2 separate regions of the Homo sapiens genome follow, and region 2 is linked to region 1. Evidence: fine-mapped expression QTL. A gene starts in region 1. The other region holds a variant in brackets. All regions are shown on one strand. Distances are from middle to middle.

Region 1 (5,368 bases):
GTTCAAAGGTAGCAGAATAACATGGACAGAGCCAGGGTCCAGAACCTTACTAAGCTGATCTCAAATCCCTGCCCCTCGGTTTTGTAGCCTGGCTAAATTACTTAACTCTCCTCATCTAATAATTATACATACCCCGCAGGGCTGCAGTGAAAATTAAATGAGATAATGAATAAAAAGTTCCAGGCACACAGTGGATTTAGTGGCTGGCATTAAGTGTTACGGTATTATCCATTACACTGGTCTATAAGGTGCTTACCCATAGGTCTGTCATCATTACATTATTCATCTTCCTAGCCTCGCTGCACAGCTCAGAGCCTTGCATTTGGTAGGCGCCCAATGAATATTTATGAAATGAACGTTGAATAAGCGCAAAGGCATATAAATAAGTTTTCAGGATTAGAAAGCCATTTATATACGTCTGGAGCCCATGTATAGCTTTGCTATACACGCTGACCCACGGCTTCTCAAAACTGAAAGGCACATCTTTCCCTCACACACTCCCAAAGCATTGGCTTTCCCCAGGGCACCCCACGCAGCAGCACTCCTTCTATGACAGCACCCCTGCCCCACATCGACCCAGGCACACACAGCTGGGGGCACCTCCTGCAGATACACAAATGCACAAGCTGAACTGCTGAGACAGGTTTACCTCGTGAAGCACACAGCCGCTGCTATAAATGTTAACTAACAACCATCTTCAGCACATCAAATGTCCCGCCCTCCCTTTTGCTTGCATATAGACACCCACAGAGATGCCCGTTCTTTTTCTACTAGTTTTCTTCTCTTCTTAAGCAGAGTGAGCGCCCCACACTCACATCCACCCAGCTGAGACCTCTTACTAGGACTCCCAGTTGCTCCATCCTATTAGCTGTGGGACCTTAGGGAAAGCCTTTCCCTTCTGACGCCTCCGTTTCTTCACTGGCAGGCACAGAGAGCCCACCGCACCAACCTGGTAGTTATGTTGTGAGGATAAAGGAGATAACGTATGAGATAACGTCTATGATGAGCAGAAAGAGCCTCCAAAGAAAAGCGCTGGATAAATACAAGGTGTAACGCCACGCCTGATTAGCCTGCATGCTCTCTGCCCACAGACTTCTACCCACAGACTATGTTCCACTCCACTCTTAAACACAAACACCTTTCCCGTCTGTACATGCTATCTCTAATACCCATATGCGCACACTCTTCGGGCACCTCCATTCTCCCTCTGGATGCCTGCAGAAAATTGTTTTTGAACTTAGAGAAAGCTCAGGTTGCAAACACCCTCTTGCCGGTACCCGCAGACTCTTCTCAGGGTCTTGGTGCAGGAACTGCCAAGCAGATAGCTCATCTCTTTGTGGCTGGGCTCCTGGGCTCCCAGCATTCCTATTAGGCTGCACTTCCAGCAGAGTGTGGGATCCTTATTAGGAGCAGCGCCTGCCCGGCATGGTCCAGAACTCAGTGCCTCCTCAGTACTTTCCCAGCGCCCGGGACCAGAGAGTAGAGGGGCTGATGGCAGCGGGACGGTGTGGAGGGAATAAGTGAGACAGGAAACACTTTAGGAGGCCAGATCCCTAAGCACTTCTTATTCCTGGGAAATTGAAGACTGCGAAGCTAACAAGTCTGGAGCACTTTCCCAGGCCTGACATACTCGTGGGCGAGCACAAGGCTCATTTGCTCCACAGTTCAAACCTTTCCACTTGGAGCACGAAAAAGAGACATCACCTGGCCCTTGGTGTCTCGGGGATGCCTGTTGCTGCCAAGCTGCGACCTCTGAAGCCCCTCCAGCCAGAGCAAAGCCTGTGGCAGGGTGGAGGGGTGAGGTCTGGCTGCCTAGGGTGGCGGTGGAAGAAGTGAAGGTAGTGTGGGGCTGTCTGTGTGTGCATGGTGCTTTGACTAAATTCCTGAATTGCACATCCAGGACCGACCCCAGGAAGCTGCAGCCCCAGGGAGCCACTTAGACACTTCGATTTACCACCTTCCTCTCTAACCACCTCCGCCCGTGTGACTTATTCCTTGAGGGAAACCTTTCAAATCTCTGGCTGCAACGCACCGGTGTCCTCCCCACCGGTGTGGACACAGCTCATCTGCAAAGTTCCAGGCGGCGAAGTTCAGCGGCCCGGACCGACCGCCGGACCCTCTTCCTGCGGCCCCTGCTCCTGCGGCCTCGCGTCCCCACCTCCCACTTCTTCACCTCCGACACCAGTGTCACCTAACACTGACGTCCCCGCCAGGATCAGCATCGGTGCTGGGAATAGACGAACCCCGTCTGCAGGAGACACGAAGACAAAGACAGGAGGACAGACGCACAGTCACCTCCTCTGGGCCGGGCCGGAGAAGCGGCGCCCACCCTGCAGAGGGGAGACCCTGACAGCTCCACGCGGAGACAAAGACACCTCGACAGCCACGGACACAGACAGACAAAGACCGACGGACGCGCGGACGCACGGACGGTCCGGCCCGGCGAGGGGAAAGCGGTTTCCCGCAGCCAGGGCAGCAGACCCTCCAGGGGCGAGGAGATCCCCGGCCACCGCACCTTACCTGCCCCCTGCGCCTCGGGCGCACTTGAGACTTTTTTTTTTTCCCAGTGTTTCCCGGTGTGTTCCCGTCTCTCTTTTTCCAGAGCTGCTGAGCGGGCCGGGCCGGTCCCACTGCGCGGGATGCAGCTCCCGGCTCCCACTCACTGGCCGAGGCGGGCAGAGAAACTTTCGGCCTCCCCGCCCGGCCGCTGCCAACCCGCCAGCTCCAGGCGCGCCGGCCTCTGCGCGGGTCCCGGAGCCGGGGCGGGGCGGGGCGGGGCGGGGCGGGGCGGGGCCGGCCCGGGGCGGGGCCAGAGCCGGCGCCGCTGATTGGCAGCGAGCTGCCGGCAGCCTGGTCTGTGCCGCTCGGCGGCCTTTGTTCCGGGCTGACAGCTGGGGCTGCTCGCGACCTCGCGGCTCCTTCGCGCCCGCGGCCTGCGCGGGGTCCCGGGTCCCGTCTCTCTGCTCTCACTTCCATCAGCCCCATTGGGCGACCCTGCCCCCTCAGTCTTCCTTTCTTGCCTGGCCCCCTTTCTCCGATTGTTCCTGTCTTGCTCTTGTCGCATCCTTTTTTCCCTTTCATTACCTGAAATTCTTACTCCAGTTTTGTTTAAAATCCATTCCTTCTCCCGTTCTGTGTATGTTCCCCTTTCTTCATTACCCCTTCCTCTTAATCGCCAGTTTATTTTTCTTAATACCGTCTCTCCCGCTCCCGACTCGCACTAAAGGGCGTGTGTTTTGTTCAAGGACTGGACTAGCACCCAAGTGAGGGGCATTGCGAACCACACCAGGATTACAGGCTAGAGTCCAGAGCACCGGGACTCCCACTCCCAAAACATGTCAAAAGCAAACTTTTCCAGCTCTGAGGGAGCTGAGTTTCAGGTGACAGCAGAGGCCTGTTTCAAGTTTATAGCTATTAGTCTCACCCAGTCCCCTTATAATACTATCATTTTCTCAACCACCCTCACTTTTAACTTCTAGCAACTGAGCCAGGAGAGGATTCAAGCTTACAAGGTTTTGTAGGACAAAGGGTCAGTTAACCGGAGTGCTAGGTGCAGCATGAGGCTTGGGGGCTTGAGGGTGCACTGAGGCTAATCCTCTAAAACCAGGCTTGGCGGGAAGATGGCAGCTCTGCCCAAGGAGTGTTAGCCTCATCTTGAAAGAAGCCTGTGTGTGTGTGTGTGTGTGTGTGTGTGTGTGTGTGTGTGTGTTGGGGGGTGGGGGATAGATGTAATGGATTAGGATTGACATAGCCGATCTGATTATAAATAGCATGGGGGCCGGACGCGGTGGCTCATGCCTGTAATCTCAGCACTTTGGGAGGCCGAGGTTGGTGGATCACTTGAGGTCAGGAGTTGAAGACCAGCCTGGCCAACATGGTGAAACCCCGTCTCTACTAAAAAAAAAAAAAAAAAAAAATACAAAAATTAGCTGGGTGTGGTGGCAGGAGCCTGTAATCCCAGCTACTTGGGAGGCTGAGGCTTGGGAATTGCTTGAGCCTGGAAGGCAGAGGTTGCAGTGAGCCAAGATAGTGCCACTGCACTCCAGCCTGGGTGACAGAGTGACACCGTGTCTCAAAATAAATAAATAAATAAATAAATACAAAAAAATTAAATAGAATTGTGGTGGCAGGGGGGACAGCTCAAAGGAAAACAAGCCATATGGTTTCTGCCACACCCCTGCTCAAAACCCTGTAGGGGAATCTCACTGCCTTCGGTTGTTGACCCTGAAGACTCTGACCTTCGAATCTAGGCTTCCTGAAAGATGGCACCGCGAGGGTTTAAGAACACAGACAGGCTTCGCTGCTTGTTATTTGAGCCATTACCTTCCCCTCCCTCTTTCTCAGTTTTTCTTTTTCTTTCTTTCTTTTTTTATTTGTGAAATGAGGTAACAAGTCCCAGTGTAAATTCCCTGAAGGCAGGAACTTGTTCTCTTTTATTGGTGGCTGAGGGACTTGGTCTGTTTTATTCATAGATGTATCCCCGACACCTAGAACTTGCCAGGCAACATAGTAGGCACTCAATATGTATTTGTTAAATGAATGAATTTCTCATGTATAGGTTTGTTCTGATGATTAAATGAAACCCACTGCCTTGCGGTAAGTACATACACGTGGCAGTAATTACAAGCAATACGACAATTTCTAAGTGTCAACCCCAAAGGCTACTCAGCCTTTTCCTGAACATCACCTCCTTTTCCCCACCTTTGTATAAACCTGCCCCTCAGTCTGAAAAGCTTTTCTCCTGCTCTTCTAACTCTACCTCTCAAAATCTGAGACAAAATATGGAACCCTTACTCACACCTTCTCTTATCGTCCAGGGCAAAATAATGTCTTCTTTTTCTAAAGCGCCATGCTTCTTTGTGTTGCATTTATTGACAGAGAACATGTATTCTTGCTTGCTGGTGAGAGTATCTCAAGAATTTTAGCTGAATGAGTTAATATCGATCAAACATTCCAGCGCTTTAAGGAAAGAGCAGACTCCTGGAAGGTAGATTAAGGTATGAGGTGGGCTCCAGACTTCAAACTCATTTTCACATCGTCGGAGGTGAGATTCCATGGAAGAGACAAAGGACTCTGGAAGCCCACTTTTTGTTCTGGCCCTACTGCTGACTATATGCTCTTGGACAAGCCATGTCCCTAATGAGGCCTCAGTTTCCTCATCTGGAAAGTGGATGGTTTGGAGTCCCTGATGAGACCTCAGTTTCCTATCTGGAAAGTGGATGGTTTGGAGTCCCTGATGAGGCCTCAGTTTCCTCATCTGGAAAGTGGATGGTTTGGATGAGAAGATACTCCTTAAGGACCCTCCTTCAGCACTGACACCTTTGTCAGTGACATTCTAGGTGAAAGCTGGGTATGATGTGCAGCCTTC
Region 2 (5,368 bases), 52 kb before region 1:
GGTTCACGGTGGTTTCAACCCTCCCTTCCCAGCACCCAGCCCAGGGCCTCAGGGTCTATGGCTTAAAGAAGAGTGGTCACCGAGGTCAAAGGTCACTGGCTGTCCAGAGGCTGCTCAGCTCCCATTTGCAAGAACCAGTAAACAGGGGCTGGGCCCCAGGGGCTGGCCATCACCCGCCACTGGCTCTCAACCCTTGGATTCTCCCTCTGCCCTCCTCTGGCTGTGGCAGGGTCTCCACACTGCTGGGCTGCCTGTCTCTCCCCTCCTTCCTGTGGCTTGCCGGGGCTGGGACAGCCCTGAGGTTTCAAAGCCAGCTTCCCCGCGGCTCATTCCACCCCTACACCTCTGCGGCCAGAGGAAAATAGCTCAGGTTCTGATGGGGCTGGTTCCAAGGCTTCTGGTCATATATGGCTTCTTTCTATTTCCAAGGCATTCCAATGTGTCCAGGAGGAAAAAGAGGTTGGGATGAGAAGCAGAGGGGAGCCGCTGTACTTGCTGTGGCCACCTTCCCTGGAGGAGGGGGAGAGGATATCTATTTCGAACAAAGGCCAAAGTTTAGGGAGCCCTTAACCAAAGCAGACAGACCCCTGGACCCATCTCCTGGGAAAGCCAGAGGAGTCAGGGCCTGACGTCTGGTGGGCTGCAGGGCTGGTGAGCACTGGGACATCAGAGAGGGAAGGAAAGGCCATCCTGCCCTCCCCTCGGGGGTCCTGGGTCTGTGTCCCAGGGAGTGGCGTCTCTCAGAGGGGTCTGAATTGCTGAGCAGGGGGGATGCACGGGAGAGCCCTGCCTCCCAGTGCCAGGTCCCCAGACTCGCCTTCCCAGGCAGCCCCTCAGATCTCAGTGGCTATGATGTCCTCGTAGGGGATGTCAGCCCCTTCCAGGTCAACCTCCAAGGGCTCCCCGGCGCTGTCCCCACGTGCCAGCTGCTGCAGGGCCTTCTCCAGGCGCTGGTTCCGCTGGTACATGGCCACGTAGCTCTGCTGCAGCTGTTTCTGGTACTGAATCACCTTCTCCTTCTCCTCCTTCCACACGAGCCGCTCATGCTGGAAGCCCGAGGACATCTGGTCATGGCCTTGCCGCTCCTCCCGCAGCTCGGCCCGCAGCCGCTCCAGCTCCCGCTGCAGGGCAGGGACGTCCTCGGGGAAGGTGGGCGGCCCCATGTCGCGGGCCAGGGCGGCCTGGGCCCGCAGCTCCTGCAGCTCCTGCTCCAGCAGGTTCACCTTCTCCCGCAGCAGCTCCGCCTCGTTCTTCTTGCGCTGCAGCTCATTCTCACAGACCTCCAGCTCCAGGCCCTTGGTGCGCAGGGCGCCCTCCAGGTCCTGGGTCCTCAGCTCCAGGCCCTCCAGCTTGCCCCGCGTGTCCTTCAGCTGTGCCTTGAGACCCAGGATCTCGCTAGCCTTGGCGTTCACCTCCGTCTGGGACTCCTTCAGCTGCTGCTTCAGGAGGGAGATCTCGCCTGACTTCTGGCACACCTGCCGAGGGTGGGGTGGAGACAGAGTGCCAAGAGGTGAGTGTCCTTACCCAGGGAAGTGACAGCTCAGCTGCCTAAAATAACCAAGCCACTCCGGATGCGGTGGCCCGGTGTTAGGCATTCCAGCCTTTGTCCAATCTGAAAGTAAGCTGAACATTGCTGTGACCTTTTCCCCAGGTTATCGAGCTAGGCTATATAGTAAAATGATAAAATAATAATAATCATGTATAATGACACATAGTATATTATTATTGTTATTATTTGAGAAGTCTCGCTTTGTCACCTAGGCTGGGGTGTAGTGGCGTGATCTTGGCTCACTGCAACCTCCGCCTCCCCTCTGATTCTCCTGCCTCAGCCTCCCAAGTAGCTGGGATTACAGACACCTGCCACCATGCCTGGCTGATTTTTGTATTTTTAGTAGAGACGGGGTTTCCTCATGTTGGCCAGGCTGATCTCGAATTCCTGACCTCAAGTGCTCTGCCTGCCTCTGCCTCCCAAAGTGCTGGGATTGCAGGCGTGAGCCACCACGCCTAGCCACACAGAAGTATATTATTATAAACATACTTTCACTAATAATTTGTAGTGTTATTAAGTGCCAAGCCATACATTTGCTCATCTATTCCTTACAACCCGATGAAGTAGGTACTATTAGTAGTCCTCAATTTACATCAATGAAACTGAGGCACAGAGAGGTTATGATAGCAAATAGCTGGTGAAGTGACCAGCCTGAGGGCTAATATATATATATATATATATATATATATATATATATATATATATATATATAAAATATAAAGTATAAGAGTAGAGATTTGATCCCAACAGTTTAATCACTATACCCCATTGCCACCATGGCTAATGTATTTACAATCACCTGGATCATAAGTGGTCAAGCTGAGGTTCAAAGCCAGGCCCATGCCTCAGCCATGACTGTGTCACTCCCTTCGTGGCATGAATACAGGGTTGGCCTTGGAATGAAATTCTTGGTCCCAAGCACGCATCCTGGGTAGGGTCGGATTTTCTCCAGGACTGTGCAGTGTTTCACTGAGGGCAAGGGGAAATTTCTACTGTGAAAGGAAATGTGAAGGTGGCTTCCAGGCTAGTTCCAAGAATCCATTCTGTAGAGCCACATGCTCTGGACTTCATTCACTCTTAAGATTCAGCCAGACTGGCCTTGGTCTCCCATGACCCCAGATGGCCAAGATCCAGAGACACATGGGTCTAACCTGTGGCTTCGGTTTTCATCATTGCTCTTGGCCAAATTTTGATGGGGGATAGGGGTGGAAATAGAGAAGAAGAGCAAGAGGAGAAGACAATGATTCCTCGTTTGACAGATGTGGATTGGGCTCTGCATCCAAGCCAGCATGATACTAGTCACTGGGTACAGCAGTGAATTTGTGAGGTAGTCTTTACTCCAGTAGACAGGAGAGAGGAGGGCTGGGTGCATGCAGGGGTGAGGTCAGAGGATGTGGGCATAAACGTCGATGACGGAAATCAGGCTGACACCAAAACCAATACCATTGGTGTTAAATGGGGGTGATACAGCTGCCAGCAGTGGGCAAGTTAAACCACTGGTTGTTGACTTGCACATAGCCAGGGGTTTGCGTGTAGACTGAGA[G/T]TTGGACTCTGAACTGGGGGTGAGGCAGGCACGTGGACAGACCAAGCTGGGTGCGAGCATGTAAAGAGCCTCAACGATGGGCTTGAACTCCATGAGTCATCCAGACCACCAGGCTGGTGAGAAAAGCTGCTTTCCCACTAATAGATGCAGAGGTTATGGGGTTCTCCAGCACGGTCAGGTACAGATGCCTCATTTCCACGTGTGACCGGGTGAGTGAGTGTGTGTGAGTGTGTAAGTGTGTGAGTGGGGGACTCTTTACTTCCTCTCCTAGGTTTCCATCTCAGCTCACCAAATAGAAGTTCCACTTACACTTCAGCAAGGAGTGGCCACTTCCATCACTGAAACCTGCCACCAATAGGGTCCCTCTTACTAGTGGGTGCAGTCCCTCCCTCCAAAGCAACAAATGCATTCTGTGCTCTCTTGGGCCCCTGGCCCCGCCTGAACTCAGGCACGGCTTGTTCTTCTTCTGAGCCTCCTGGGAGCTGATGGAAGGGAGGTCAGCCCACAGCCTGGCTGGGCCTTGGTCATCTGGCTTCCGGCTTCATGATTTAATGGCTCACTTGGGAAACTGAAATCTAGGAGCCATGAGGGTGATGGTGGGGACAGGAGGAAGCTCAGATGTAAGTCGATCCCCCAACATGGTTTGCAGGGAGCCCCTTCTTTGGGTGATAAAGCCAGCACATTAGCCCCGCTTGCCTGCGCGGTCTGTGTTTGCACGCTATTGGCCGGCACCAGAAGGAGAGGGGGGTACTGGCGCCAAACCGCTGACCACCCAAACCCATGAGCCCTGTGTGGCCTCACCTCCCACTGGGTCTCCTCCAGCGCGGGGCCGAAGCTGGTCTTCTCCCTCTCGTAGGACCTGAGCTTGGTCTCCAGCAGGTCCTGCTCCTTCATGAGGCTCTCGAGCTCCTGCCGGAGCTGCCGCTTCTCCTGCTGAAGCTGCAGTACCTGCAGGTGCAGGACCTGCTGCGCGCGCTGGCTCTTCTGCGAGGCCTGCTTGAGCTTGTTGCCGCCTTTGGGCTCCGGGCCCTCCAGCTCGTCCCTGCAGCGCCGCGGCCGCTCCTCGTAGGCCAGGCTGGAGGCAAGCTCCTTCTCCTCAAAGCTGCGCTGCAGCTTCTGGAGGGCGCCCTCCCTCTCCAACAGCTTCTGCTCCAGCTCCTGGATGCTGCACTCGTCCGTGGAGATGGGGGAGCGGACACACGAGGGGCCCTTGTCTGCCTTGTTCGAGTGGCCCAGCTTGCTACCTCCGTCGGAGAAGGACAGAGCCTTCAGGCTCATCATGTTGCTGTCCTGGAGGACGATGCCCTGGGTGATGTTGTGGGCGGAGCCCCCAAAACGGCTTGTGGGTCCCACGGGTGTGACCAGCGGGTCCAGCTGGTAGCTGCTGCTGGTGCTGTGTGTGGGCAGGCTGGACATGGAGTTCCGGCCGGAGTCTGACAGCGCCCCAGAGCACAGGCCAGGCTTCAGCTCCTGCTCCTTGGGCTTGTCTGGAGGGGCGGGGTGCAGCTGGTGGCTGGCACTCTCCGGGGAGGAGTGCAGGATGGCTCCTGACCGTGGCAGCACAGGCTTGAAGGCTGTGGGCCTCACTGCACCCTTCTCGGAGCCCTGTAGAGGAAAAGGACCGCGGTGACTCATGCCTCCCCTGCGCGCGCATTGCACCCTCCCTCCCCAGGCACGCGTGCCGACCTTGAGCCAGTCTGGGCTCTCTGAGCGCACGCAGCACCCCTCTTGGTCAATTGTCTCAGCAGACCTTGCCTGTTGCTTTGAAGCAGCTGAATGTCATCTCTCTTAGGAAGGAAAAACCCTAATGGCGACTTGGGCACTTTGTTCTATGAAATAGCAACCTGCCACCAGCTTGCCCCAGCCCTCCCGAGGTGATAAATACCATCTTGAGGCTCCTGCTCTAGGTCTCTGTGTGGGGCAAGTTAGGGCATCAGGCTGGCCGAGCTTGCTGTCCCTCTTTAGGTCCATCCCTTCTTCCTGTTCACTGCCTCTTCCATTAAGCCTGGAGCAAGGACACGGACCTGGCCTCCTTACAGGGTTGGGAGGCTCACTCCAAATCACGATCCTTTTTTAAAACTGTAATTTTCCCTGGTAGAGTGCTTCACAGTTTACAAGCCCCTTAATTTGAAAAGCTGAATGCTCTATGCAAACATAAGAGGCTCTTTCCTAGTAAATCAAAGCCGGGGATTCATTTCCCCAGGGCAAGGGGCAGAGGACTGAATAGGAAAATTGATTTCAGTGTCCACTCGTGGGACGCACGAGGGCTTGAGCTG

Evidence for each region. PIP is the estimated chance that this variant, and not a neighbour inherited with it, causes the effect. A credible set is the group of variants that fine-mapping cannot tell apart.
Region 2: its variant is the best candidate, but not a certain one, in a credible set for the expression of LZTS1 in whole blood (INTERVAL, PIP 0.87).

What each region holds. Positions count from the first base shown.
Region 1 is chr8:20,301,220-20,306,587 of GRCh38, forward strand. LZTS1 (leucine zipper tumor suppressor 1) reads right to left here and starts at 2,744. Exons shown (of 4, transcript NM_021020.5): 1 at 2,521-2,744. RefSeq lists a silencer at 2,734-2,803.
Region 2 is chr8:20,248,889-20,254,256 of GRCh38, forward strand. LZTS1 (leucine zipper tumor suppressor 1) reads right to left here. Exons shown (of 4, transcript NM_021020.5): 3 at 3,894-4,697; 4 at 1-1,475. The coding sequence ends at 834. Among named protein-coding and RNA genes, the nearest start is that of LZTS1-AS1, 24 kb to the right of the region's middle. RefSeq lists enhancers at 136-677, 678-1,221. The variant G/T (reference allele first, on the strand shown) is at 3,093.